Homo sapiens: one gene and its partners. The protein of the gene in region 2 purifies or fractionates together with the protein of the main gene of each other region. This does not show direct contact. Each region holds a gene or a part of one and is shown on either strand. Other genes may lie near its edges.

What was found.
Region 1: the proteins of MFSD2A (region 2) and NUCB2 fractionate together in Homo sapiens (co-fractionation; one large-scale study listed by BioGRID). This does not show direct contact.
Region 3: the proteins of MFSD2A (region 2) and GCN1 purify together in Homo sapiens (affinity purification with mass spectrometry; one large-scale study listed by BioGRID and IntAct). This does not show direct contact.
Region 4: the proteins of MFSD2A (region 2) and TSN purify together in Homo sapiens (affinity purification with mass spectrometry; one large-scale study listed by BioGRID and IntAct). This does not show direct contact.
Region 5: the proteins of MFSD2A (region 2) and ARFGEF1 purify together in Homo sapiens (affinity purification with mass spectrometry; one large-scale study listed by BioGRID and IntAct). This does not show direct contact.
Region 6: the proteins of MFSD2A (region 2) and TAOK1 purify together in Homo sapiens (affinity purification with mass spectrometry; one large-scale study listed by BioGRID and IntAct). This does not show direct contact.
Region 7: the proteins of MFSD2A (region 2) and LTN1 purify together in Homo sapiens (affinity purification with mass spectrometry; one large-scale study listed by BioGRID and IntAct). This does not show direct contact.

What each region holds. Positions count from the first base shown.
Region 1 is NC_000011.10:17,275,565-17,279,538, reverse strand, and holds the start of NUCB2 (nucleobindin-2 isoform 1 preproprotein), read right to left. Parts: upstream 2,801-3,974; 5' UTR 2,711-2,800; exon of another isoform or gene 2,687-2,710; intron 2,517-2,686; exon of another isoform or gene 2,242-2,516; intron 1-2,241. UniProt on the Homo sapiens protein: Calcium-binding protein which may have a role in calcium homeostasis. Acts as a non-receptor guanine nucleotide exchange factor which binds to and activates guanine nucleotide-binding protein (G-protein) alpha subunit GNAI3.
Region 2 is NC_000001.11:39,953,672-39,957,944, forward strand, and holds the start of MFSD2A (sodium-dependent lysophosphatidylcholine symporter 1), read left to right. Parts: upstream 1-1,473; 5' UTR 1,474-1,621; coding exon 1,622-1,714; intron 1,715-3,415; coding exon 3,416-3,550; intron 3,551-4,273. UniProt on the Homo sapiens protein: Sodium-dependent lysophosphatidylcholine (LPC) symporter, which plays an essential role for blood-brain barrier formation and function. Specifically expressed in endothelium of the blood-brain barrier of micro-vessels and transports LPC into the brain.
Region 3 is NC_000012.12:120,184,716-120,188,215, forward strand, and holds part of GCN1 (stalled ribosome sensor GCN1), read right to left. Parts: intron 173-3,500; coding exon 109-172; intron 1-108. UniProt on the Homo sapiens protein: Ribosome collision sensor that plays a key role in the RNF14-RNF25 translation quality control pathway, a pathway that takes place when a ribosome has stalled during translation, and which promotes ubiquitination and degradation of translation factors on stalled ribosomes.
Region 4 is NC_000002.12:121,754,155-121,758,450, reverse strand, and holds the start of TSN (translin), read right to left. Parts: upstream 2,801-4,296; 5' UTR 2,672-2,800; coding exon 2,606-2,671; exon of another isoform or gene 2,498-2,605; intron 1,212-2,497; coding exon 1,118-1,211; intron 1-1,117. UniProt on the Homo sapiens protein: DNA-binding protein that specifically recognizes consensus sequences at the breakpoint junctions in chromosomal translocations, mostly involving immunoglobulin (Ig)/T-cell receptor gene segments.
Region 5 is NC_000008.11:67,225,282-67,228,781, forward strand, and holds part of ARFGEF1 (brefeldin A-inhibited guanine nucleotide-exchange protein 1), read right to left. Parts: intron 2,984-3,500; coding exon 2,943-2,983; intron 2,852-2,942; coding exon 2,682-2,851; intron 2,318-2,681; coding exon 2,166-2,317; intron 2,029-2,165; coding exon 1,856-2,028; intron 903-1,855; coding exon 742-902; intron 1-741. UniProt on the Homo sapiens protein: Promotes guanine-nucleotide exchange on ARF1 and ARF3. Promotes the activation of ARF1/ARF3 through replacement of GDP with GTP. Involved in vesicular trafficking.
Region 6 is NC_000017.11:29,393,363-29,396,862, forward strand, and holds part of TAOK1 (serine/threonine-protein kinase TAO1), read left to right. Parts: intron 1-3,500. UniProt on the Homo sapiens protein: Serine/threonine-protein kinase involved in various processes such as p38/MAPK14 stress-activated MAPK cascade, DNA damage response and regulation of cytoskeleton stability. Phosphorylates MAP2K3, MAP2K6 and MARK2.
Region 7 is NC_000021.9:28,954,878-28,958,377, forward strand, and holds part of LTN1 (E3 ubiquitin-protein ligase listerin), read right to left. Parts: intron 2,600-3,500; coding exon 2,455-2,599; intron 2,072-2,454; coding exon 1,885-2,071; intron 1-1,884.

The DNA of each region.
Region 1 (3,974 bases), on a different chromosome or scaffold from region 2:
GTATAGCAAAAAACATAGCGTATATAAGGGTTGGTACTACCTGTAGTTTCAGGCATCCATTGGGACCCTTGGAACATATCCCTCTAGGATAAAGGAGGACTACTGTAATCTAATTCAGCCCTACTTTTATAAAAGGTTATAAATACAGAAGGAAGTTAACTGACTTGGCCAAGTTCGTTTGGCAGAGCCCGTACTGGAATCTGGCCATGAAATTCTAACTAAGTATACTTTTCACCACATCATGGTTGTAAAAAAAATTTTTGATTGGAAATAATGAAAGTGATTGAAGTTTTTCCTTGAATAAATTATTTGAAATTGTTAGTAGCCTGTTTTTTGTTTTGTTTTTGAGACGTAGTTTCACTCTAGTTGCCCAGGCTGGAGTGCAATAGCGCGATCTCGGCTCACTGCAACCTCCGCCTCCAGGTTCAAGCGATTCCCCTGCTCCAGCCTCCTGAGTAGTTGAGATTACAGATGCCCGCCACTACGTCTGGCTAATTTTTGTATTTTTAGTAAAGACGGGGTTTCACCATGTTGGCCAGGCTGGTCTTGAACTCCTGGACTCAAGTGATCCACCCGCCTCAGCCTCCCAAAGTGCTGGGATTACAGGCATTAGCCACCATGCCCGGCCTAAAGGATTATTTTCAATACATTTTTAAATCCTGCACTTGCTTCTGCCAGCTACCCAGTACTCAAAAGGGTATTTTGTAGAACCCAGCCTTCAAAAGGGTCCTTAGAAAGTGGAAAGTAATTTACATATTATTCTAAGTAATGCAAAATTAGTTTAGTATGTGTTCAGAGATTAATAACATATCCCAAAACAAAAAAGACATCTGAATTGATGTTATTGATATTAGTGCCCATAATTAGTTGTGTCTTGAAAAGTACCTTAATTGTCTTAATTGTGCATTTTATCTCAACTGTTATTCACAGAGCGCAAACCAACTTGGCAAAAAGCATGCTGAAAGAATATATACAAAATACGTGATATGAACAATATGTACCTTGGGAGAGCAAAGAAAGGTAAACACAACATAGACAGATTCGACTCTTAGAACATGGGTCGTCCAGGCACGGTGGCTCACACCTGTAATCTCAGCACTTTGGGAGGCCAAGGCAAGTGGATCACCTGAGGTCAGGAGTTCGAGACCAGCCTGGCCAACATGGTGAAACTTCGTCTCTAATAAAAATACAAAAAATTAGCTGGCTGTGGTGGTGGGTCCCTGTAATCCCAGCTACTCGATGGGCTGAGGTAGGAGAATCCCTTGAACCCGGGAGGCGGAGGCTGCAGTGAGCTGAGATCGGGCCATTGCACTCCAGCCTGGGTGACAGAGTGAGACTCCATCTCAAAAAAAAAAAAAAAAAAAAAAAGATGGGTAAAATTTGGATAGAGAAGAGCATGAGTAAACACACGGAGACAGAAATAAATTTTTGCCTCCTTTAAGTTTCTAAAATTGTCTAGTTAAAAAAAAAATTTGACCCCCTACTACAAAGGTAGATGAGATCATGGAAAGCTTGAAGACCACGATGAGAAATAGAAGTTTCCATGTTCATCCTAATTAGGAGAGTGACATTATTTGAGATTTCATTTCTAATTCTAAATTTCCAGAATTTTAATTTTTGACCCTATTAGCTGAAGAAGATTTGTTGAAATATTTGTTCAACATTTGTTGAACTTATTCAAGTTTCAAAAAACAAAAACATTCCTTAAAGCATCTATCTCATCAATTCTTTAACTTTCCCATAGGGAAAGTCCACAATCTCCCTCAAACAAAATTCACTATCAGAAATATTTGCATTTAACCTCCCCTATTTTTAAACCAAGGTAATATCTTTTAGTGTTCATATTCGTCCACGGATTTAACAGAGCCTTAGTAGCAGGCTTAAATGGTAGCACTAGCTTATTCAATTGCATAAAATGTACATTATTCAATTTAGAAGTTTAGCAGACATAGAATTTCAAGAGGTTCTGTCTCTCAAAAATCATAATGGTTCCCGTTCATTCTCATTCCCTCATATTCTCTCTCTCTCTCTCCTTCTTTCCCTCCCTCTCCCAGCCATTTGATACTGTAAAATAACTGTCATCTAAGACCGTTGCAAACACCAACCACAATAACCATATTTGCTCACTGAGTTGCCACTTAGCAGGTGCAACAAGGAAATACTGTTTCTCATCTCCTAAAACCAAAAGGGTTCATCTCGTACCTAATTTGTCACTTAAGTGAAAAGCATATCACGACTTACACTAACTTTCTCCTAAGTGTCAGAGGTTGCTGGCTTAACCAGACCGGAGAAGAGCAGGATCCCCGGGCCTAGCTTTGCTGAGCGGCACAGGGGAGCATCGCCTGGAATTGGTGGGTGTCCCTCCTCACTAGTGGGCACCCCCTTGCCCATCGACCTGCCCAAACCCGAAGGGACCCCGCCAGGGTCTCGGTTTGGCACCTACCCTCTCCTGCTCCCCGCCAAGAGCCAGCCACCCTCCTCGACCCCGAAGAAAGCTCGGGTGCCCAGCTGCGAGTGGAGCAGAGGGAACCCAGCGCCTCCGGCTCGCGCTGGGAGCCCCCTCCCCGCCGGTGCCCCGCCCACAGCACGGCCCCCACCATCCTCTCTGCTCTGGCAAGGCAGGCGAAGACCGGAGCCTTATCTCCGGACTCCCCCACCCCTAATCTCCCGCCGCGCTGCTCCGCACCTACCGCGCGGCCACCGGCCTTACCTGGCCGGGTCTCGGCGAGCGAGGCTGCGCCTGGTGCTTGCGTCCAGCGCACAAACCTGTCCTCCAGCCCCCGGCCCACCGCTCCGCTCTGCCCCTCCTCCCGCCGCGCGCGCCCGCCTCCTGGCTGCCATGGCGACAGTTCCCACACTCTGCGGCCGCTGATTGGTCCGGTTCGCGATTGCTGACGACGCCGATTGGCGGGAGCAGGGACAAGGCCGCGCCGGGGAGCCTGGAGGCGGGCGGTGAGGAGGGCCGAAGCTGTGGAGCCTGGTGGGAGGCTGAGCCAGGAGGGACGTGGCGCTCTGAGATGCGGGCTCAGGAGGCCGCGCCTCTTCCTTCCCTAGCTTACCCGGAGAATCCTGTGGAGCAGGACTCGGGCGGGTGAGGTGCCGTCCTGAGACCCGGGCAGAGCCCCAGGGATCGCCTCTCCCTTGGCCTCTGGCCTGCGCCTGCAGCGCCCACGCAGGTCGGAGAATGGCTGTCAGGCCTATTCTCGCCCACAGGCCTCGCTCGGCTCTGACACCCCCGTCCTCCGCCTTGGCGGGAATCTTAACGGCATTTGTAACCGCACCCACCCCCGTTGTGCTGGGCCCTCGGTCACTGTGGTTTAACTGTATTTACCCACCTTCTCTCTTGCCCATTCGCAGACAGCTCTTTCCTCTGCATCCTGCCCCAGAGAACAGACATCTATTCCAAACCCCTCATTTTAAAGATGGGGAAACTGAGGCTCAAAGATGCACATGGGTAGCTTGAGCCTTCCAGAAGCTTTTGGAGCCACAGGCTGTTTACGAAGTTTCATCCTGCCGATTAGTTTTTTTCACCTGAAAAATTGGTATCATATCTACCTTAGGGTTATTCACGAAGATTGAATGAGATAACATTGCCAGGAAAACAGTACAGACTAGGCATGGTGACTCACCCTGTAATGCCAGCACTTTGGGAGGCCAAGGCAGGAGGATGGCTTGAGCTCAAAAATTTGAGACCAATCTGGACAACAGTGAGATCCTATCTCTACAAGAATATTTTTTACTTTTTTATCTTTAACACAATGATGTTTCAGTCTGAAGAAAATACTTAAAAATTTGCCAGGTGCTGTGTCGCACATCTGTAGTCCCAGCTACTCAGGAGGCGGAGGCAGAGGCGGGAGGATCACTTGAGCTCAGAAGGCCGAGGCTGCAGTGAACCATGATCATTGTGCCACAGAGTGAGACCCTGTCTCAAAAAAACAAACAAACAAAAACACACAGTACAGAATCTGCCACAT
Region 2 (4,273 bases):
ACTTGTGGTATGGTGTGACTGTGGGAGAGAAGATTTGGGGGCTGCAAGGGAGCTTAGCTAACCAAGCCTGGAGAGGGGAAAAGAGACAGAACAGTGTCACACAGCTTGGAGTAATGGGGCCAGCCATTCCCTTTCCACAGTATTCAGTGCCTCACTTTGGCTCTCTTCTGCTCAGCAATGGCCAAGAGCTGTGTGCCCAGATGGGATCTGCTGGCGTATGAGGGAGCATGGTGTGACCATCCTGGGGCAGATAGACCTTATCTCTCCTCCCTGCAATCAGAGATTTAAAGAAAGGAAGAAGGAGGCTGACATTAAGGAGCACAGGAACCGGGTGGGTAGCCTTTGAGAGTTCCAGCAGCCCCTTCACTAATCAGAGAACTGGAAAGACCGGGGTGACATTGACATAAGGGACTCAGAGGTGGAACTAAAGACTGTTCTTTTCTGGCATCCGTGCCTGCCTTCTGTTCCAAACTAATGCCCTCCCATCTTCTTTTGAGGACCACATTTCTGGGCATTCTCTTTTTCAAAACTTTCCCTGTTTCAACCCTCAGTGCCTCTGGAGCCATGTATCTCCCAGGGCTTCTTGTTGGGAGACACATACACCCCATTCTGCCGTCTGTAATTTATGCTAAGAGGGATAGAGCAGGGCTGTTGAGAGCAACTGCTTTGGTATCGGACAAAACCTTTCAGGCCTGGCTCTGCTACATAACAGTTGCTTCACTTCTCCAAGTTTCCCCTTCCTGTGCTGTAAAATGGGGATAATAATAGTACCACCCTCACTTGGTGGTTTTTGAGGGCCGAAAGAGATCATATTAAGCATGGAGGAAGCTATCCATAAAAAGGCCACTGTTGTCATAGTGTACTAGCGGGCGTAGCCCCGGCTTCTCTCCACGACTTGGGAGCTCCCTTCTGGCAGGGGCAGCCACTGGATTGCCTCATCTTTCTCCCCATTGCCCGGATGCCAAGGGCAGGACGGGGGAATGGTGTGTCTTCGGGGATGAGAGAGAGGCATCAGGAGGGAAAGTGTCAGCGTACGTCCTCTAGGCTTGAAGAAGGAGAGAGGCCCTGACTCCAGATTTTAAAGTGGGCTTCAGAGCCCCTACCTTTCCTAGGCCTGGGGCTCAGAAGTCATGGGTGGTAGGCCCGACTCGGGGAGAGTCGGACCTTGGGGACCTCGGGGACCTCGGGCAGATCGGGGACCCCGGGCAGATCACTTTCAGCCTGGGGCCTCGGTTTCCTCGCGCGTGTCTGGGAGGTCTCGCGGCCTGCTTCTCGGATTGCTAGGAGCCAGCGCAGGCAGATGCCGGTTCCGGGGCTTGGAGAACGTGGCTCGGTGGCACAGAGCCGCCGGGCGAGGCGGGGGCAGGGAGGCGGGCGACGGGATTGGCTGGAGGCGGGGCAGCGGGGCTCGGGGATTGGCCGCAACCGAGAGGGCTGGGCAGAACTATAAGAGGCGCGGAGGGGGCGTGCAGCAGAGTGCGTTCCTCGTCTGCCAGCCGGCTTGGCTAGCGCGCGGCGGCCGTGGCTAAGGCTGCTACGAAGCGAGCTTGGGAGGAGCAGCGGCCTGCGGGGCAGAGGAGCATCCCGTCTACCAGGTCCCAAGCGGCGTGGCCCGCGGGTCATGGCCAAAGGAGAAGGCGCCGAGAGCGGCTCCGCGGCGGGGCTGCTACCCACCAGCATCCTCCAAAGCACTGAACGCCCGGCCCAGGTGAAGGTGAGGGCCCGGCACCCCGCGTGGAGGGCGAGGGGAGGGAGGAGGCGGAAATGGGGGATCAGGGGCGTCCCGGGGTCGGCCTGGTCAGGGGACCATTGGGATAGCCAGGGACAGGAAGCCTACGAGCCAGAGAGGACCTGGGGGTGCCCTGGGACAGGGGGTGACGGAGAAAAGCTGTGGGCGCCCTCGCCCCCCTTTGCTCACCCGCACTCCACGCTCTGCGGAGAGGCTCTGCCGGCAGCCCCATGTGATTCCCCGCTCTGCCTAGCCGGTTTCCATTCTTCCGTGTTGAGCGGCTGGGGCTTGCCGCCCCAAACCCCAGAGATGACCCCAGAAATCTGGGAAACTCCCCTTGGTTCCCCATCTCTCATCCCCTACCTCCCACTCCACCCACCTACTCTTGCGCCTCAACTCTGCTGTTAGGGCCGCTCAAGTTCATTCATAAGAACAAGAGCTCTGCTCTTAAAGGAGCCGCGTCCCTCAGGCATTTGTCTGAATGTGGATGTTCGCGCGGGAACGGTGCTTTGCGCATCGAGACCATCGACCACATCCCCAGCCCTGGGGACTTATTGAAGGACCAAATAAAATGAGGCGGCCCCCTAGGAAAGGATCTCAGGCAATAGATACCTTCGTGGGAGGTGACTGCCTTTTCCTTTTAATTTTATTAACTGATCTTTGGAAGGAGCTGGGTGAGCAATTATGCTGTTACTATGTATGAGTAATATCTACTTTCCCTGGGCAACCCAACCTCCCTAGTGCCCCACCCGGAGAGGGATCAGGCCTGAACCTGGAGGCCTTTCCTCCCGTCTCCAAGGTCCTCTAGGAGCTCAGGGGTGGAGGGCGATGGGTCGGGAAGCTGGAGAGTAGGACAGTTCCTGGGTCCGCCTGAAGCTCTGGCTGCCTATAGTGGTCAGGGATGCTCTGGGATAGGTGGAACAGCTGCGCCTGCAGCCAGCTGGGCCGGGCCCCCGTAGCTCTCTAGAGCTCTCACCAGGAGTAGGCAGGTGGATCCTGTCTCTGAGGCAGGGTGGGAGCCTGGGCTGGGCTCAGGCAGCTCTTGGCAGCAAGCGGATTTTCAGGTTGTGGCAGCTGGTGCCGGGTGGGGACAGGTCGGCTGCTGGAGCATGCTCCCCCTGAAACCTGGAAAGGAGCAGTGCCTGAGGCCTTGGGAGGAGTTCTTTAGGGATGGTGGGCTGATAAGTTTCCTTAGAATCTCCAGGAGGGAGGTGGCTTAGGGGCTACTTTCACACAAGTATGGATTCCCCTTTTCCATGTTCCTAAGAATGGAGAACACCTTTCTTTTGTATAAAGTGGGATCTCGGAGATCGAGACCATGCTGGCTAACATGGTGAAACCCCGTCTCTACTTAAAATACAAAAAATTAGCTGGGTGTGGTAGTGGGTGCCTGTAGTCCCAGCTACTTGGGAGGCTGAGGCAGGAGAATGGCGTGAACCCAGGAGGCGGAGCTTGCAGTGAGCCGAGATGGCACCACTGCACTCCAGCCTGGGCAACAGAGCAAGACTCTGTCTCAAAAAAAAAAAAAAAAAAAAAAAAAAAAAAGGTGGGATCTCCTGGATAGGAACAGGTCAAAGCAGAGTTGTTTGTTCTGGTAGAGCTGGCCAGAGGGATGGTCCTTCCTGTGGAACCTTCTTGGATGGAGGCCAGAACCTTGGGCCTTTCATCTTTTCCTCCTCTTCCCAGAAAGAACCGAAAAAGAAGAAACAACAGTTGTCTGTTTGCAACAAGCTTTGCTATGCACTTGGGGGAGCCCCCTACCAGGTGACGGGCTGTGCCCTGGGTTTCTTCCTTCAGATCTACCTATTGGATGTGGCTCAGGTGAGTGGTCTAAGCCTTCGAGGGCTCCTTCAGCATCCTGAGGTGGGAAAGACTATGCACCCCTGGGTCAGTTCGCTCAGTTTTCCCCATCTGTGAAATGGGACCCCAAATCACTACTTTGCTGCCTCTGAGTCAGTGAGCAAGAAATGAGAAGACCCTGGAAAGTATCCAGTAAAGGAGTGTCTCCACTCCAGGAGTCTTTGCTGGAAAGGTCTGGCAACTCCTCCTTGCCTGGCATGAGCAACAGAGCCTGAAGGGGTAGGCGGTAGAATGAGGGAGAATGGGGCCTGCTGGGGATGCTGTTCTTAGAAGAGACTGGCACACTGTGTTCCTGGCTGGGAGATAGTCAGCTGGCTTGACTCAGGGGTTGGTGGCTGTTGCCAGGCTTGTGGATGAGATGCATCCCACCTTTACCTGAGGAGCAGAAGGGCACTTAGGTGCCAGGCTAAGTTAGAATGCCCCAGTACACAGGGTCTTTGACTGGGAGGGGTACTTAGGGTGAAACAGGACTATTCTGTGCATTGAGAAGCCTTGGCCAGAAGCCTGGCATCCTGAGAATTCACCCTGTCTGGATGGGAGAGTGGGAGGCAGAATAGCCATGACTACCGGGGCTCCTGCACCAGCTGTCTTCTCTGTGTAGCATCTAACTTGGCAAGCATCGCATCTTAGTTGTATCCATTTACAGAGGGGGAACACTGAACTCCAGAAGGAACAAAAAACTTC
Region 3 (3,500 bases), on a different chromosome or scaffold from region 2:
CCAGATTTGGCACCAGGCAGTCTGGCTCTAATCTGGGCTCTAACCACTACTCTAAATCCCCTCTCTGTACAAAGTGCTCCACATATGGGGCCTTTGGCTGGGACTCACCTATATCGATGCAGAGTCAAGCAGAACAATTTGCAGAGCCCCTTCACTGCTCCCTCTGGAAGATCTGAAACCAGAGATTACACAGACAGCGGTCAATAAAAATCACTTGGTAAGCCGCTGGAGTCAGGTATTCTGCCCAGACATGATCTCAGCCCACTGGACACTCCCCATATATTTAAGACCTTCCTCCCCAAGAGGAAAAAGCAACAACAAAACAGGACTCTAGGAAAATGCCTGGTACAGAAAAGCTTTGGGTAGACATTTGCTAAATGAACGAAACTAAGAAAATAAAAGTGGCCTCGAAACCTCACATGCCATCAAGAGGAGGTTCAGGAGTGCTGGAATGGTTCTACTTCTTGATCTGGGTGCTGGTTATACTGGTGTTTAACATGTGATGATTCAGTGAGCTGTTCCATTAGGAGGCGTACCTTTCTTCACATACATTCTAATAAACGGTTTAAAAAACAGTGCAACACTGAAGTACTATGAGGGACCAGAAAAGGGAAGAACACCTATAACTGGAGTGTTTCTGAAAGTCTGAAGGACACATAAGCTTGGCCTATCAGATTAGTAGGCTCTGGAAAAATGGAAAGAGAGGGAGATACATGTAGAGTGCAGGGTTAAGAAGGCATAATACCTATTCAGAACACATGAAGAAGAAGAGAGGACTAATAACACCCTAGCTCTTAGTGCTTACAAGATGCCAGACCCTGCTCTAGATCATTCATACACATTCACTCATTTAATCCATGTAAGGTGGGCAGTGTTATTAAGGCCCCCCCGCCTTTTATTTTTCAGACGGAGTCTCACTCTATCGCCCCGGCTGGAGTGCAGTAGTGCGATCTCGGCTCACCGCAACCTCCGCCTCCCAGGTTCAAGTGATTCTCCTGCCTCAGCCACATGAGTAGCTGAGACTAAAGGTGCGCACCACCACGCCCAGTTAATTTTTGTATTTTTAGTAGAGACAGGGTTTCACCACGTTGGCCATGCTGGTCTCAAACTTGTGACCTTGTGATCCACCTGCCTCAGCCTCCCAAAGTGCTAGGATTACAGGCGTGAGCCATCGCACCCGGATTAAGCCCATTTTTAAATGAAGAAACCAAGTAATGGGAAACCAAGCCAGCCAGTCAGAGTGAAACAGATACACCCTAACTCTGGAGTGAAACAGATACACTCTAACTCTGGGCAGAAAGAGTTCAACTCTTGGTTGAACAAGAGTGCTCAATATGGCTGGGGGCAGTGGCTCACGCCTGTAATCCCAGCACTTTGGGAGGCCAAGGTGGGAGGATAACTTGAGGTCAGGTCAGGAGTTCAAGACCAGCCTGGCCAACACGGTGAAACCCCGTCTCTCCTAAAAATACAAAAATTACCTGGGCATGGTGGCACGTGTCTGTAATCCCAGTTACTCAGGAGGCTAAGGTGGGAGGATCACCTAAGCCTGGGAGATTGAGGCTGCAAAGAGAATCGCTTGAACCCAGAAAGTGGAGGTTGCAGTGAGCAGAGATGGCGCCACTGCACTCCAGCCCAGGAGACAGAGCGAGACTCCATCTCAAAAAAAAAAAAAGAGTGCTCAATAATGTTGGAAAGCCAACCTGTGACAAGTGCTGCATGACACAGTGAAGCACGCAAACAAAAGGGAGGAGCTTCTGAGGAGGAGGAAATTTAACCTGCAGTGTAAGACAGACTTATACTGGGTGTAGGAAGAACCTGAGAGCAGGAGGCCCATACCATTCCTCACACTTCAGGCACCTGAATGATGGAAGAGAAATGAATGAGGTACAGGGACGCAGTTTCCCCAGGGCCCTGACCACTGCATTGGTCCATGTGATTTGGGGCTATTTCAGTAACTGGGGAAAAAGAATGACTGGGGCCAGAAACAGGTTGTGGCTAAGACAATGACAATAACAGCTAACACACACTGTGAGCTTACCATACCCAGACAATGCGTTACATTTACTCCAACCTATCAGGGAAGTACTACTGCTATCTCCATGTTCAAAGCAAAGAAACAGGCTCAGAGAGGTGAAGTAACTTGAAGCAGGTCACACAGCCTGTAAGTGGCACAGCCCATCTGAGCCCTTCATCACTGACTGCTGCACTAGAGGCCTGTGACTGGAAAGATCGGTATCACATGGCTGCCTTTTCTAACTAGAGGGCTCTGCTGGGAAAGTGACCAGAAAAACCGTCGAGGATGCCATAAAACTCATACATTGAAGCATTAACACACAAGAGACTCTCTGAGACGCTCACAAATAGCAAGTTTACAAGCTTGGGTATCTTACTAGGCATAAGCAGGTCAGAAGCAGCAAATGAGAAGTTGGGTGAAGTGGTAGAAATAGGAAGTAAAAGTGGACAGAAAGGGAGACCCAATCTATATGGCCATGATTTTCTTTTTTTTTTTTTTTTGAGACAGAGTTTCGTTCTTGTTACCCAGGCTGGAGTGCAATGGCGCAATCTCAGCTCACTGCAACCTCCGCCTCCCAGGTTCAAGCGATTCTCCTGCCTCTGCCTCCCAAAGTAGCTGGGATTACAGGTGCCCACCACCACACCCAGCTAATTTTTTTGTATTTTTAGTTGACACGGGGTTTCACCATGTTGGCCAGGCTGGTCTTGAACTCCTGACCTCAGGTGATCCATCCTCCTCGGCCTCCTAAAGTGCTGGGATTCCAGGTGTGAGCCACCAAGCCCAGCCATGGCCATGGTTTTCAAACTTTAGTAAACATAGGAATCACCTAAAGGACTCGTTAAAACACAAATGCTGGGTTCTGTGCCCAAACTTTTTTTTTTGACACAGGGTCTCACTCTGTCACCCAGGCTGGAAAGCAGTAGCACAATCATGGACCACTGCAGCCTCAACCTCCTGGGCTCAAGCGATCCTCCCACCTCTCAACCTCCCAAGTAGCTGGGGCTACAGCACCTCCAGGATTTCCGATTTGAGTTGCTCCAATGGAGCTGAGAATTTTTATCTCTAACAAGTTCCAAGATGATGCTGATGCTGCCTGTCCAGGGACCACACTTTGAGAGCCAATGCTATACGGTAAAAACAAACATACCAAAAGAAATGAAAAAAAAAAAAAACAAAAAACTAGAATTTATTGAGTGAAGGCAAAATGGTCTTACTCTAATAAGTCATAGAGCTATCCCTTGGTTATGGTGCAGATCAGGATAATCAGATATGCTCAGCATTTCCCAAAATGTGTTCCCCAGACCCTCAACAGATTTTCAGCAAAAAAGAGGTTCAAAGAAAACACTGAATCCAAGGAAGCTTAATAAAGTGAAAACACCTTGTTGCGAATATTCCAAGAGGACATCAAAAACATGACCTCTAGGCTGGGCATGGTGGCTGACGCCTGTAATCCCAGCACTTTGGGAGGCCAAGGCAGGCGGATAAC
Region 4 (4,296 bases), on a different chromosome or scaffold from region 2:
GTCATCCTTAAGGAGATGCACACCAGCTGCTATTCCTGTTCACTCCTCAGAGGATGCCTAAAATTGGATTGCTTCTTCCTCCCATATTTGGCAGAAAAAAGCCTTTACCAAGTATTCACAATCAGGATGACCAACTCCGTATCATTAAGAAAAATCACTTGCCTCTGGCACGTGTAAATGCATTATTATATCATTCTTGTATCTGAAAATATACTTCAGCTCCTTTAGCTGTGCTGGCAATACCTTACAATGAAGGTTCCATGTCTAAACTTGACATATTTTATTTTCATTCAAGAGGCTGATTATAAACACATTAATTTGAGAACATTTTATACTGTTAATCTCATATTAAAAGGTATTCAATCACTGAAAGGCTGGATTCAAATACACACAGGTGCATATACACACATACACACATACACACACACACACACAAAGGGCCAAATAAAAGTCACTAGATAACACAAAAGAGTTACAAACCCTTGGGCCAGGTGCAGTGGCTCACGCCTGTAATCCCAGCACTTTGAGAGGCCCAGCCAGGCGGATCATCTGAGGTCAGGAGTGCAAGACCAGCCTGGCCAACAAAGTGAAACCCCATCTCTAATAAAAATACCAAAAAAAAAAAAAGTAGCTGGGCGTGATGGCGGGCACCTGTAACACCAGCTACTCAGGAGGCTGAGGCAGGAGAATTGCTTGAACCCAGGAGGCGGAGGTTGCAGTGAGCTGAGATGGCACCACTGCACTCCAGCCTGGGCAACAAGAGTGAAACTCCGTCTCAGAAAAAAAAAAAATTAAAAAAATAATAATAAACCCTTTTCCCGCTTACCCTGAGAATACTGTGCTGGCAGAGAGCTGCACTTTTTTTTTCTAAACAGGAAATGGGTTAAGCAATTGTAATTATCATCAGTAGAATGCCCTCGCAATAGAAAACATCTCTGTTTAAACCATACTGTGTGGAAGTGGAAGAAAAATCAACCAAAATTATCAAATCACCTACTTCTTCAATTTTTACTCACCATAAAGCATGATAGCCATTTTTCATTATAAAATGTCTTCTGGATAGAAACTCTCCCTCTAAATAAGAGACTGATAATTGGATACAAAACAAAGAACTTACTGTCCTGAAACCCAGCACCCTGATGGACCCCTTGCAGTAGAGTTAAAATCTCTCGAGCTGTTTGTTCTAAACTCTGTACAACTTTTCTGATTTCCTAGAGAGAATTAAAAATAAAAATCAGATACTCAACAGAATCATTGTCATACACTCACACAAAACACATTAGATAGCTTATGTGATCTATCATAACCAAGTTTGAATCCTGACTTTTCCACTTATTTCCTCTGTAAGACTTCAAAAAGTCACTAAAAAGCCTTAGATTCCTCAGATACCCTTTAAAGAATAATAGCCACCCATTAAACCCAAGTATTCAATTGGGACATTATAATGGATGACGTGTGTGAACGCAACTTGCAAAATGAAGAGTTAAATGCAACACAAGAGTCGGGTATTTCTAATTCTTTTTTCTTTTTTTTTTTTTTTTTGAGACGGAGTCTCGCTCTGTCACCCAGGCTGGAGTGCAGTGGCGCGATCTCAGCTCACCGCAACCTCCGCCTCCCGGGTTCACGCCATTCTCCTGCTTCAGCCTCCCGAGTAGCTGGGATTACAGGTGTGCGCAACCATGCCCAGTTAATGTTCTTTTATATTTTTAGTAGAGACAGGGTTTCCCCATGTTGGCCAGGCTGGTCTCAAACTCCTTACCTCAGGTGATCTGGCCGCCTCGGCCTCCCAAAATGCTGGAATTACAGGCATGAGGCGCCGCTCCCCGCCTCTAATTCATTTTTAAAATATTCACTGAGCATACTTATGTGCGAGGCACTGTGTAAATACCGGGGAACCAAGCACACAATCCCTTCCCTCTGGCGGTTTAACATACAATGAGGGAGAAGATTTTTTTAAAATAATCAATATTACACACATTAAAAAAAGTTAATGTGCTACTAGAAAACATAACAGGAAATAGATCGCTTAGACTGTGACGCCAATGAGATAAATACGAGACAATCAGGAAAAGAACGGGAAAGAAGCAAATTCCAGGAAAAGCAAACAGGCAGGAAGCTATTTGGGGCACTAGAAGAGGTAAAGTGAACATCATACACAAAGACAGAGAGCATAAACGAGATTGAAGAGAAACCATGTGAGCCACAGTAGAGTCTGATTTTTTATCCTGTGTGGCATAGGAAATCACAGGAGAGTTTTAAGCAGATCACATGTGCTTTTAAGACACCAACAAAAATACACGAAACGCTCATTCGCTGAAGACCAGGTGCTAATCGAGCCTTCGATATAAACAAGTGCTGAAAAGAAGGAAAACTGACACAAACGAGGCAAGTGATGCTGAGAAGCTGAGACTCGAACACGGGGAATCAGGACAGAGCAGCAAAATTTTGGGCGGGGGCGGGGAGTGCCTAACCTAAAGCTAGAGGGGAAGCAACCCACCCTCGGAGGCGTCCCCACCGCCCGAGACTGAGCGACAGAGGAGGGCCGGGCGAAGTGGCCCAACTAGGCATGGAAAGGCAAAGGGAATGGGGAAGGGAGGGGGCTCGCCTCTCGGATGTCCTGCTCGGCAGCCAAAAAGCCCTGCAGCTCCACGAAGATCTCGCTCACAGACATGGCGCCGGCTGCACAACAATCAGCCAGTGTAGCAAGGGCGGCCAAGGAAGTGGACGCCGCAGGCAACCAGCGCAATCAATCGCAACGGCCGCCGCTACCGCCGCGTCCCCCCGGTCTTACGCCACGACCGTCGCTAGGGTCCTCCGAGGCTCGCGGCGCGCCGGAGGACGGGCTGTCCGCCGCGCTGCCTGAGGCGCCGTCCGCTGCGTTCGGAACCGAGGCGCGCGTCCAAAGGGCAGAGGAGAGGGAGAGTGGGCGGGGCCTCAGTCTGAGGCCTTCAGACAGGCATCGCCAGAAACAACCTGCGAAGGCGGCCCTCGGAGCACGTGGGCCTGAGGGAGGGCGGGGACGGGCGTGTAGGTGGTGCGGGCAAGTGGGGCTGGTTAGCTTATATGTGTGTATTTATTTCATACACAACAACAGTTGGAGGGAAATATTTGACAACGAAAGAGTATGCACAAAAAACAGGTGCAGAAGAATGTAGAGAGAGTTCAGCCTTCGTGAGAGAGTAGGGGGCCAGTGCATTTCCAAAAAAAAGGAAAATAAAAGTAACGTATGTAGGACTGTGAGTAGGGAATGGATTGGGAGCGAAAATTTTCTGTGTAGATCTTTTAATGTCTTCTCTGTATGGCTGTATTACCTATTTTTAAATTAAACGGCTTTTTTAAGCGTGTGCGGTGGGATGTTTCTCTTTCCACTCACACCTTGTCCTAATTCCCCTTCCATGCCCTATAACGGTTTCCCCTTTCATGCCCTATAACGGTTTCCCCTTTGTTCTTGAAGAGTTATTTCATACACACATACTGTGTGTGTGTTCTTGAACAGTTATTCCATACACAAATACAGTGTGTGTGTGTGTTGCACTCGCCAGATGAATTGGAATGATTCTTATCAACTAAATGATAATTTATTGCTTGCTTTGTTTCTGACATTATTCTAAACTCTTTACATGAAGGATCATATTTAATTCTCATTATATGAGAATAATTTCATGTCCATGAAGAAGACAGTAAGACCACTAGCACCTACATTTTTAAAAAACTATCGGCCGGGCGCAGTGGCTCACACCTGTAATCCCAACACTTTGGGAGGCCAAGGCGGGCAGATCACAAAGTCAGGAGTTCGAGACCAGCCTGACCAACATGGTGAAACTCCGTCTCTACTAAAGATACAAAAACTAGCCGGGCGTGGTGGCGCGCGCCTGTAATCCCGGCAACTCGGGAGACTGAGGCAGAAGAATCGCTTGAACCCGGGAGGCACAGGTTGCAGTTAGCCGAGATCACACCACTGCACTATAGCCTGGGCAACAGACTCCGTCTCAAAAAAAATAAAAAACCCTTTCTTATCTCGTGTTTGTTCTCCCAAAACCCATTCGTCTGTCCTAAAGAATCCTATTTGTTCTCATACAAACTTTCGTCACCTCTCCGTTTTACCTAGAGTTAGGCACACAAGCCACTAACTGGTTTTTTGTTTCTTTCTTTTCTTGTGTGGTTTTCGTTATTGTTGTTTTGTTCTGTTTCATTTTTTGGTCTCATTACGTTGCCCAGTCGGGTCTTGAACTCCTGGGCTCAAGAAATCCTCCTGCCTCAGCCTTTCAAAATGCTGGGATTACAGGTATCAACCAC
Region 5 (3,500 bases), on a different chromosome or scaffold from region 2:
TCACCAGCTTTCTGCATTATTAGCCAGGTTAATTCAGGTTTCCATTTTTATCACTTAAATGGTTATGATACCAGACAGCCACATTAACCACACTGGTGAAGTATGAAGGTGAAATGAGTTGACGTATCTAAAAAGTACCAAGCACCTGATCGGTCCATGGTAGTACGGAATAAAATCTTATTACCAAATCTACGATACATCACTTTCTCTTATGACAGTTACAAAGATAGATTCAAATATACAAGTTAAATATGGCAGCTAGATTTTCAATTCAACCTTTTACTTTAGAGCTTAAGCCTATTCTCATCCATAGTCAGTCAGCTTCAGTATTACACAGCACAGACAGACAAGATGCACTGTAGGGAATGGTTAGAAACACAGGCTGGGGCTCAAACCCTAGTTCTACTTTACTAGCCCTGAAACTATGGGCACATTTTAAAATTTCTCTGTGCCTCAGTTTCTTTGTCTGTATGGGGCTATAACACTATCTACCCCATAAAGCCATTAGAAGATTAAACAAGTTAATACAAGTTAATGAAAAACACTCAGAAAAATACCTGACACTTTCAATAATGGTTAGTTATAATCACTAACCATCCTAACTTGGAATCAGGCTGCTCAGATTATTTTTCAAATTACTGAAAAATAAATGCTTCATATACCCTCAATTCCCAAACAAACTTAAGATTTCAAATTGGAAAGAATACTCTGCAAAATTTTGTTTACTAAATGACGCTATACCTGAGGTCTATCAGACACATATTTTGCACAATGGCGAATAAGTCGAATTGCTTCCATACTTGTGTCTGGGAAAGCTGCATTGCACGCAAATTCAGACAAACACTTCACTGCATCCTGGAAAGAATCAATGGTCGCTGGAAAGTGTTTTTCAAATACAAGGGCTAAAATAGAGAAAAATATATATTACTATAATTTTTCAATTATTCTTAGCTGTACCAAAAATACACCAACATCTAGATGTAATGCACTTCCTCTTAAAGGTTGTTACAGGTTCTGACATCCAACAGATACGAAGTTCAAGACTATCTTTACCACTTAACTGACTGCCCTGAGTGGTGAGAATAGTAAAACTTGTCTGTTTTGTTTACATTATAAACATAGCACCTAATACAGTGACTGGTACACGGTAGGTACTGATTCAACTTTGGTTGAATGAATATACAAAATTACTTAACCTCTCTGTATCTCGGTTTCTTGATATAAAATGGAAATAATAATAATATACACAGATAGCTGTAAGCACTACGTAAAATAATATAAGTGAAGTGCTTAGTGTAATACTTAAGCAAGCACGCAATAAATGATAGCTATGATGATGCCATGATTCTTGATGTTGATGGTCATCATTGTCATCTTCCATATAGGCTTAACTTATAATCTTAGTATTTCAGTCAGTCCCCCTTGAACTTAAGGGGACTCCTCCTTGAAGAAGGCTGTGCAATGTACTTACTGGTCAAAAATAAAGGCTTTGCTTTAATACTCCATGGGTCTCAAGACCATCTCCATCACTAGTTCTGTGACCTTACATAGACTGCTTAACCTTTCTGGGGCTGAGTTTCCTAATCTATTTTGAAAAAAGGGATGGACAATAATGTTTAACTGTGAAGATTAAAGAAATTACGTGAAAAGTGCACACAGTATTTGCCATATGGTAAATACTCAATAAATGTTAACTATAATAGTAATTTAATTGTTTTTATTTACTCTGGTTCTGTAGACAAAGCTTGGTAAACTTAAAGGCCATAATCTTATTGTTACTTGAATCATCTTCTGAACACGTTAAGGTTGCTTTTTTTTTTTCCTTTTACTTGAACACAGCTAAGAGAATACTCACTGACAATGTGCCCGGTTGTTTGGAATGCAAGTTCCACTATGCTTTCATCTTGATCAGATGCAGCTAGATGAAATACAGAGAAAATGTTCTTCCATCCAGATCGAATGTTAGCAGCTTGAGAATTAACCATCTGTGCTATACACCGTACAACCATATCTCGAATTGTTGGAGACCTAAAAATATTAATATAATTGCTTGGATATGCAAACCGATAAAACTCATCAGTTTTTCCCCCTTTCTTCTGTTTTTCTCCCTGCTGTGGAAAACAACAAGATTTTCCTTCTATTAAGCAATTCAACAAATATAGTACCTGTTCCGTTTCATTATATGTTCAAAAGGTCTTAAGAAATCCTTCTGGAATCTGAAGTTAGCAAGCTCCCCTTTCTCTAAGAACTTCATTGACAACTGCCTCAAGGAGTCTACTGCAAAAATAGCTACATCTTCATTAGGATTACACCCAACCTGTAATGGCGACAGAAATAAACGATGCTAATTAATATCAGCAGTAAAAATCTACAATTCTTTATTTTTTGTTTTAGAAAAAGTATAGAATAGCATAGATAGGTAAATCCTAAGATTTTCCATAAAGGCATTAAGTATGCTAAAACTATTTCTCAACAAGAAAAACAGATATTTTAAATCAAATTCTTAAAGCCCAGAGCAATCATTTCTAAAAAGAAAAACACCATTCACAGGGTTTTCTAATTTAATATTAAAAAGTAATAAATAATTGCTTGGAAGGGAAAAAGGCTCAATTTGATTACAAGGACATTCTAAACAAAAAATATACTACAAATGTAAACAAACACCATAGTTATTCAAATACCTTATTAAAATGATCTCCAATAACTTCCCAAATTCGAGACCACTGTAATCTTATTCTTCCCATGTTGTAATATGATATTTCTACTATTTTTTGTAGACTAAACATTCTTGGGTGTGTCGTGGAAAGTAATTCATCCATAGACACAGCACAGAGCCAACGGACAAAATCCACTGTAATATAAATACATTTTTTTTTTAGCTCAACATTAAAGTTATTTTAGCCCCAAGCCAGTTCCGAAGTAGAATAAATGCCCATACTTACCAATGGCATTTCCATCTAGCCTTGTAGATCCTGTGAATATTCTAGGGAAAATAAAACACAATTTAAAAAATTTATAAGTTACTGTTCTTATTCCAATTGAAAAGTATGTGGCATGGGGTACTAGCTATTTTTATGTTTTAAGGGAACAAAAAATTGGGTATTCAAATGAGTATTTTTCATCATTTAGTTTAGTAACAAGTGTAGTCTGGATGTTTCTCCCTCCCCTCCACCTCTACTCCATGTGAACCAGTTTACATTCAATATTATTATTAGGGTAAGTATATACTGCTGTAATTTTATCAGATTTACAAACCCCGGATAGATATGAGATTCTAAGAATAAGAAAAATATTAATTTGTAAAACTAATAATTGGCACACTACAGATTCTTTCCTGATTATTGTCTAGCATTAAGCAAGTTCTTAAAATGAAAAATTTGACGTATTTTTACCAGTAAAGTATATTTGATTAGAAAGTTCATTTACACTAAAAGTGACTTAATATAACCTTGCAAATAGTCTCAGTTTACCCAAGAATTGGCCAAACCACTTTCCTTAGG
Region 6 (3,500 bases), on a different chromosome or scaffold from region 2:
TAACTAAGGACAACTGAAAAAAAAACAACTCTCTTTTTTCATAGCTGGTAGGAATGTTGCCTAAAAGTGGAAAAGTATGTTCATGATCAATTAGATAAATACATTATTAAGGAAAAATTGCCTGAGGGTTATTTCAGATGACCTCTGATGCCACTGTCAGAAAGAAAATGCTGAGAGCTGTTAGTCTGAGTTGATTCTAGATTAGTATGGCACTTCTTATGTTTCTAAATAGTTCATCTACAAAATGGCAGTGTACATCACTTCCTGTTCTTTCACAACTGGCTCTTTCACTGGATTCTCTTTTAATGACTTAATTTTTGGCATTCTGATATCTGATTTGTTAATTTGGTTATAATTCTCATGTTTTATAGGTGGAAGAATTTCTGAGAATCAGCTGGATTTAAAGGCTTTTAATAGTTTAAGATTATCTTGACAGTAACAAAACATTGCTTCCAAACTAAAGGATAGTATTGCAAACAAATTTAAACTCTGAGAGGTTTTAAAGAAGTACAGCAATGTACAGAATCAGAAGTATGAGGGCACTGAATAGAAAATAATTATCGTATTTTTTATAATGTCGATTTTGGGAGAAGTGAGGATATGGCAAGTAATTGAATGGGTGTTGATATAAAATAAACTTTCTGTATAACAAGGTGTATACATGATATTTGGGCCCATGTTACGATGCCATTTTAACAGTAAGAAAGCAACTCTTTAGTTACAGGATACTAGAAAGACTGGATGCTCATAACTAACCATGAGTATGATTTATTTTAATAATTTGCCAGTTTTTTTTTTTTTTTTTTTTTTTTTTTTTTTTTGAGACGGAGTCTTGCTCTGTCGCCCAGGCTGGAGTGCAGTGGCACGATCTCGGCTCACTGCAAGTTCCACCTCCTGGGTTTACGCCAGTCTCCTGCCTCAGCCTCCTGAGTAGCTGGGACTACAGGCGCCTGCCACCAAGCCCAGCTAATTTTTTGTATTTTTAGTAGAGACGGGGTTTCACTGTGTTAGCCAGGATGGTCTCGATCTCCTGACCTTGTGATCTGCCCGCCTCAGCCTCCCAGAGTGCTGGGATTACAGGCTTGAGCCACCGTGCCCGGCAAATTTGCCAGTTCTTAATAGACATGAATATTTAGTAAATCCAGAAGATATCTAGGGGTCAGTTGTTGGCATTGAAATTAGAGTTGAGATCAATCTGTCTTTCGTGTCTTTCACCTGGAAATAAAGTCTGTGTTTTGCATTTGGCTTATTTGTATATTAAAATCACTTAATTTTTCATTTGTATCTCTGTTTTGTTTTCACTAGTCTCTGTTACTTATAACAATTAATTGCACTCATACTAATTTAATCTTTTAGAAATGAGGAGCATTTTTGGTACATATTAGTTGAGGGTTGCTGTTTGGATGAGGATCATATGTGAACGAATCCCTTCAAAAAAGTGTTATTTCTGGGCTGGGCAAAGTGGCTCAGGCCTGTAATGCCAGCGCTTTGGGAGGCTGAGGTGGGAGGATTGCTTGAGGCCAGGAGTTCAAGAGCAGCCTGGGCAACATAGCATGACCCTGTCTCTACAAAAACAAATTTTTTTTTTAATTAGCATGGGCTAGGCATGGTGGTTTATGCCTATAATCCCAGCATGCTGGGGGCTGAGGCTGGAGGATCACTTGAGCCTAGGAGTTTGAGGCCAGCCTGGGCAACATAGTGAGACCCTGTCTCCAAAAGATAAAAAATGAAAATATTAGTGGGGCGTGATGGTGCGTGCTTGTTCTAACTACCTGGCAGGCTGAGGTGGGAGGATTGCTTGAGCCCAGAAGATGGAGGCTGCAGTGAGTTGTGATCATGCCACCGCACTCTAGCCTGGGTGACAGAGTGAGACTGTCTAAAAACAAAAGCCTGTGTGGTGGCTCAAGCCTGTAATTCCAGCACTTTGGGAGGCCAAGGTGGGCGGATCACCTGAGGTCAAGAGTTCGAAACCAGCCTGGCCAACAAAGAGAGACCCTGTCTCTACAAAAATAAAACAAATTAGCTAGGCATGGTGGTGGGTGCCTGTAACCCCAGCTACTGGGGAGGCTGAGGCAGGAGAATCACTTGAACCCAGGAGGTGGAGGTTACAGTGAGTTGAGATGGCGCCACTGCCTGACAGCCTGGGCGGCAGAACAAGACTCCATCTCAAAACAAAACGAAACAAATAAAAAAGTTTTATTTCTCTAGTAAAGTTTCGCATAAAATTGAGATGTTCATTAAGCAGAGTACCAACATATGCTCACCTGCCTTTAGGTATGTGTACTTTTTTTTTTTTTTTTTTTTTTGAATTTGAGACAGGGTTTTTGCTGTGTCGCCCAGGTTGGAATGCAATAGCGTGATCACAGCGTATTGCAGCCTCAGCCTCCCGGGTTCAAGTGCTCTTCCCACATCAACCTCCCAAGTAGCTGGCACTACAGGTACATGCCACCACGTCTGGCTAATTTTTTTTTTTTTTTTTTTTTTTTGTAGAGATGGGGTTTTGCCATGTTGCCCAGGCTGGTCTTGAACTCCTCAGCTCCAGCTATCTACCTGCCTTGGCCTCCCAAAGTGCTGAGATTACAGACATGAGCCACTGCACCCGGCCCGATTTCCGTACTTACTATTAATGGTTGGATTTTAAAAATTATTCTTCAGGTTTTCCTATTATAAAATATGAGAGGATACAACCTGTATTAGTTCATTCCATTCTTAAAGTATTTTAGTTTTTAGTAATAAAAATTGATGTTTAATTTCATTAAAGATGTCTCATACCTTCTAAAAATCTACATGAATTAAAAAGTTGTGTGGAGGGACTAGCAGCAATTATTTTCAGCTGGGACGTTTCTGTCATCATATGGTAACAGTTATTTCTGTATCAGTCTATTTGTGCCAGAAGCAGACTTTTTGTTCTAAAATACAGTCTAAGGCTATACCTTTTTGATGACAAAATTAAGTATCCTATAAAAGTTGGAAGAGTTTTTAAAATGTTAAGTACCTGGCATGTAAATAAAGTAAGTAAAAGTATAAATTATTAAGTGCCTTGCATAATAGATATACTGCAGCCTCCTAAAAATGCCAGTGACCGTTATGCTGTAGGTTGTTATTTAAATATAATGGCACTTAATTACCGTCTAATTTATCTTTAAAGCTGAGAAGGGGCTAATTTTTCCTTTTGATAAAATTATTTGATCAAATAGTTTTATGCAGGTTTAGAAGTAGATGAATTACTGTAACATTTAGAAAGACATTCAAAGTTTAGTTTCTGAGAAATATTATCAAATAATAGGATGGAACAAAACTTTCTGGTTTGCAGCTACCAATAATAAAATTGGCACTTACTATATATTAATGTTGGCTGGGCGTGGTGGCTCACGCCTGTAATCCTAGCACTTTGGGAGACCGTAGATCACTTTAGGTCAGGAGTTCAAGACCAGCCTGGCCAATGTGGAGGAAACCCGTCTCTACTAAAAATACAAAAAATTAGCTGGGCGTGGTGGCGT
Region 7 (3,500 bases), on a different chromosome or scaffold from region 2:
AAATATTTTTATGGCTAAGACTTCAAAAGCGAAGGCAACAAAAACAGGCAAATAGGACTATGTTAAACTAAAAGCTTTCTGCACAGCAAAAGAAACAATCAACAAAGTGAAGAGACAATCTGTAGAATGGGAGAAAATATTTGCAAACTATTCATCCAACAAGGGGCTAACATAAGGAATATATAAGGAACTCAAACAACTCAACGGCAAGAAAGGAAAAAAAAATCCCATGCTCAATATTAGTAATCATCAGGGAAATGCAAATCAAAACCCCAGTTAGAATGCCTCTTGTCAAAAAGGTAAGAAATAAGCTGGGAATGGTGGCACTGCTTGTAATCGCAGCACTTTGGGAGGCTGAGGCAAGAGGATTGCTTGAGCCCAGGATAAAGACCTGTCTGGGCAACATAGTAACACCCCATCTCTAAAAAAACAAAGACAAAAAATAACAAATGCTGGCAAGAATGCAGAGAAATAGGAACTTATATACTATTGGTAGGAATGCAAATTAGTACAGCCATTTTGGAAAACGATATGGAAGTATTTCAAAAAACTAAAAATAGAACTATCACACAATCCAGCAATCCCATTGAATATTTAGAAAACCAGTATATCAAAGGTATATCTGCACCCCTATATTTGCTGCAGCACTATTCACAATAGCTGAGATATGAAATCAACCTAAGTGTCCATCAGTGAATGAATGGATATATAAAATGTGGTACATATGCACAATGGAATACTATTCAGCCATTAAAAAAAGAATGAGGCCAGGCACGGTAGCTCACTTCTATAATCCCAGCACTTTGGGAGGCTGAGACGGGCGGATCACGAGGTCAGGAGTTCAAGACCAGCCTGGCCAACATAGTGAAACCCCGTCTCTACCAAAAATACAAAAATTAGCTGGGCATGGTGGTGTGCGCCTGTAGTCCCATCTACTTGGGAGGTTGAGGCAGGAGAATCACTTGAACCTGGGAAGCAGAGGTTGTGGTGAGCCGAGATTGCGCCACTGCACTCAAGCCTGGGCAACAGAGCGAGACTCTGTCTCAAAAAAAAAAAAAAAAAAAAAAGGAATGAAATACTGTCATTTGCAGCAACATGGATGAAACTGGACATCATCATGCTAAATGAAATAAACCATGCACGGAAAGACAAACATCACATGTTCTAATTTGTATATGGGAGCTAAAAAAGTGGATCTCATGAAGATAGAATAGTATAGTAGACTGATGGTTACCCTGAGAAGGGTCAGGGAGAGCAGGGGATGAAGAGAGGTCGGTGAATGGGTACCAAAATACAGTGAGAGAGAAGATATATGACCTAGTATTCAATAACACAGTAGGATGACCATAGTTAACAATGATTTATATTGCAAAATAACTAGAAGATTTGAAATGTTCTCAACACAAAGAAATGATAAATGTTTGAGGTGATGGATATCCTGCTTAGCCTGATTTGATCACTACACATTCTATGTATATATCAAAATATCACATGTACCCCATAAATATGTAAAATTATCAGGTATCAATTTTTTTTTAATCAACAGAAAATTCTGAATCCTTGATAAAACACCAAAGCCTCACCCATTTTCTTTAGGGTATGTGCCACAGGATCTGTTTACATTGATGTCATGACAGCCTGAGTAGCTAACACCAAATTACGATCCACAGTTAACAAGATTATAGCAAGATTCCAATATATTCGTATCTAATTTGCAATTTCACATTCACCACTTAAGTAACTTCAAGGTTCTCATCATTAAAATAGGAAAAAGAAAGCTGAAGATTCTTGAATTAAAGATTTAAACTGCAGTATAATCAAGATTATTTCAAAATTATATTCATTCATGCATTATGTTATATGTAAATACTCATATATACTTACTTATTTTCTCAAGCTCATTATTTTCTAAGACTGTTTCCTTTCTCAGTGCAATTAAGACCATTTTGCTCAATAATGCTGAAGTACACAAATGGCTGGGAAGTGTCTTTATGTCCTGTTCCTTAAAATCTGTTTTGAAACATTCATAATTCAAACTCAATCTTCCCTCTAAAAGAGGTCTATGTAACCACTGTGAAAAGAATACGTTATATACAAAATTATTTATTACCTAAGCAATTGAGACTGAACAAAAATGAAGTTGTGAGAATATTTATTACCAAAACCACAGAAACCTAGAAGTTTGTTTTCTTTTACAGGAAATTATCAACATGTGTATTTCTTTAAGACTCCTTAAGTACAGAACTAGGTCCTAAGTCTTTGTACCATGCCCACTGCCACTGTCAAATGGTGTCTTGCAAAAAGCAAACATCCAGTATATGAGCATACAAAGACATCAAAGCAAAGCAAAATACTCATTTTATTTATGTTTTTCTTCCCCAAAATAAAAATATTCAAGCTTGCATGAAATCCAAACTTCAGAATGAGATATGTACTCTTCAATTTCCAAAATACCTGCATAGGAAGAGACTGCCTCATCTTTTCCCATTCACTGTCGTTCGGCATTACACTTCCAATATAAACTCCCATAAGATAAGAATCTTCACTCTCTAGAAGTGTATTTAGCAAATCATCAACAGCAGACAAGAGGACTTGGAGACTAAAAATAATGCAGAGAACTTAACTGTTGTAGTTACGCTATGACTAGTTTGAATACCCCAATACATATTAAATACCCTATAATAGCTCACCTGAACAAAAAGAAATGATGAAAATAAAAAGAGGTAAGTGACATTCCCCCACCGATGACACACCAACATAACAGTCAAACTGGGGAGGTAATCCAATATTTATCATTTGAAATCTAGTGTTGCTTCCTATCTATCTCAGAATGAAGAGGACCTGACCTATTTCAGACCAGGTATTTCAGAAATACAGCTACCTTATGAAATGCAGCACTATTTTACCTAAACCCAATATCCTCTAAATGCATTCTCTCTTCTCCTTTATTATATGGATTTAGGTATGAGAGGTAAAATATACTTGCAATTCAACATCTTAAAACACTGCCTACCTGTCCCCAAAAAATAAATAACCAAGAACAATCAGTACATGTGGTGACCATGAGAGGCTACAATGCACACCAGCCTATGACAAAGGATAGTATCACCATCACTTTACTGTCTATAAGTTATGAGTCCAGCAGGTATGTTATAGCAAATTATCCTTCAATTAACTGGCAGTTTAAATGGATGGTCATTGAAACAAAATGGTTTTGGAAAAATTCGTTTGGGTCTTTTCATAAGAGTCCTGTAGATTTGTTACCTAACAAGTCACTTTTCATTTCTCTTTTTTTTAAGAGATGGCATCTCACTATGTTGCTCAGGCTGGTCTCAAACTCCTGGAGGTCTCAACTGATCCTCCCACCTCAGCCTACTGAGTAGCTGGGATTATAGGGACGAGCCCTACAAGTCATTTTTCATAGGCACTCACACTGATCATGGAATCTAATTTAAGGACACTGTTCAAGTATAAAAGAGACACTGAAACCAAGCTCAAAA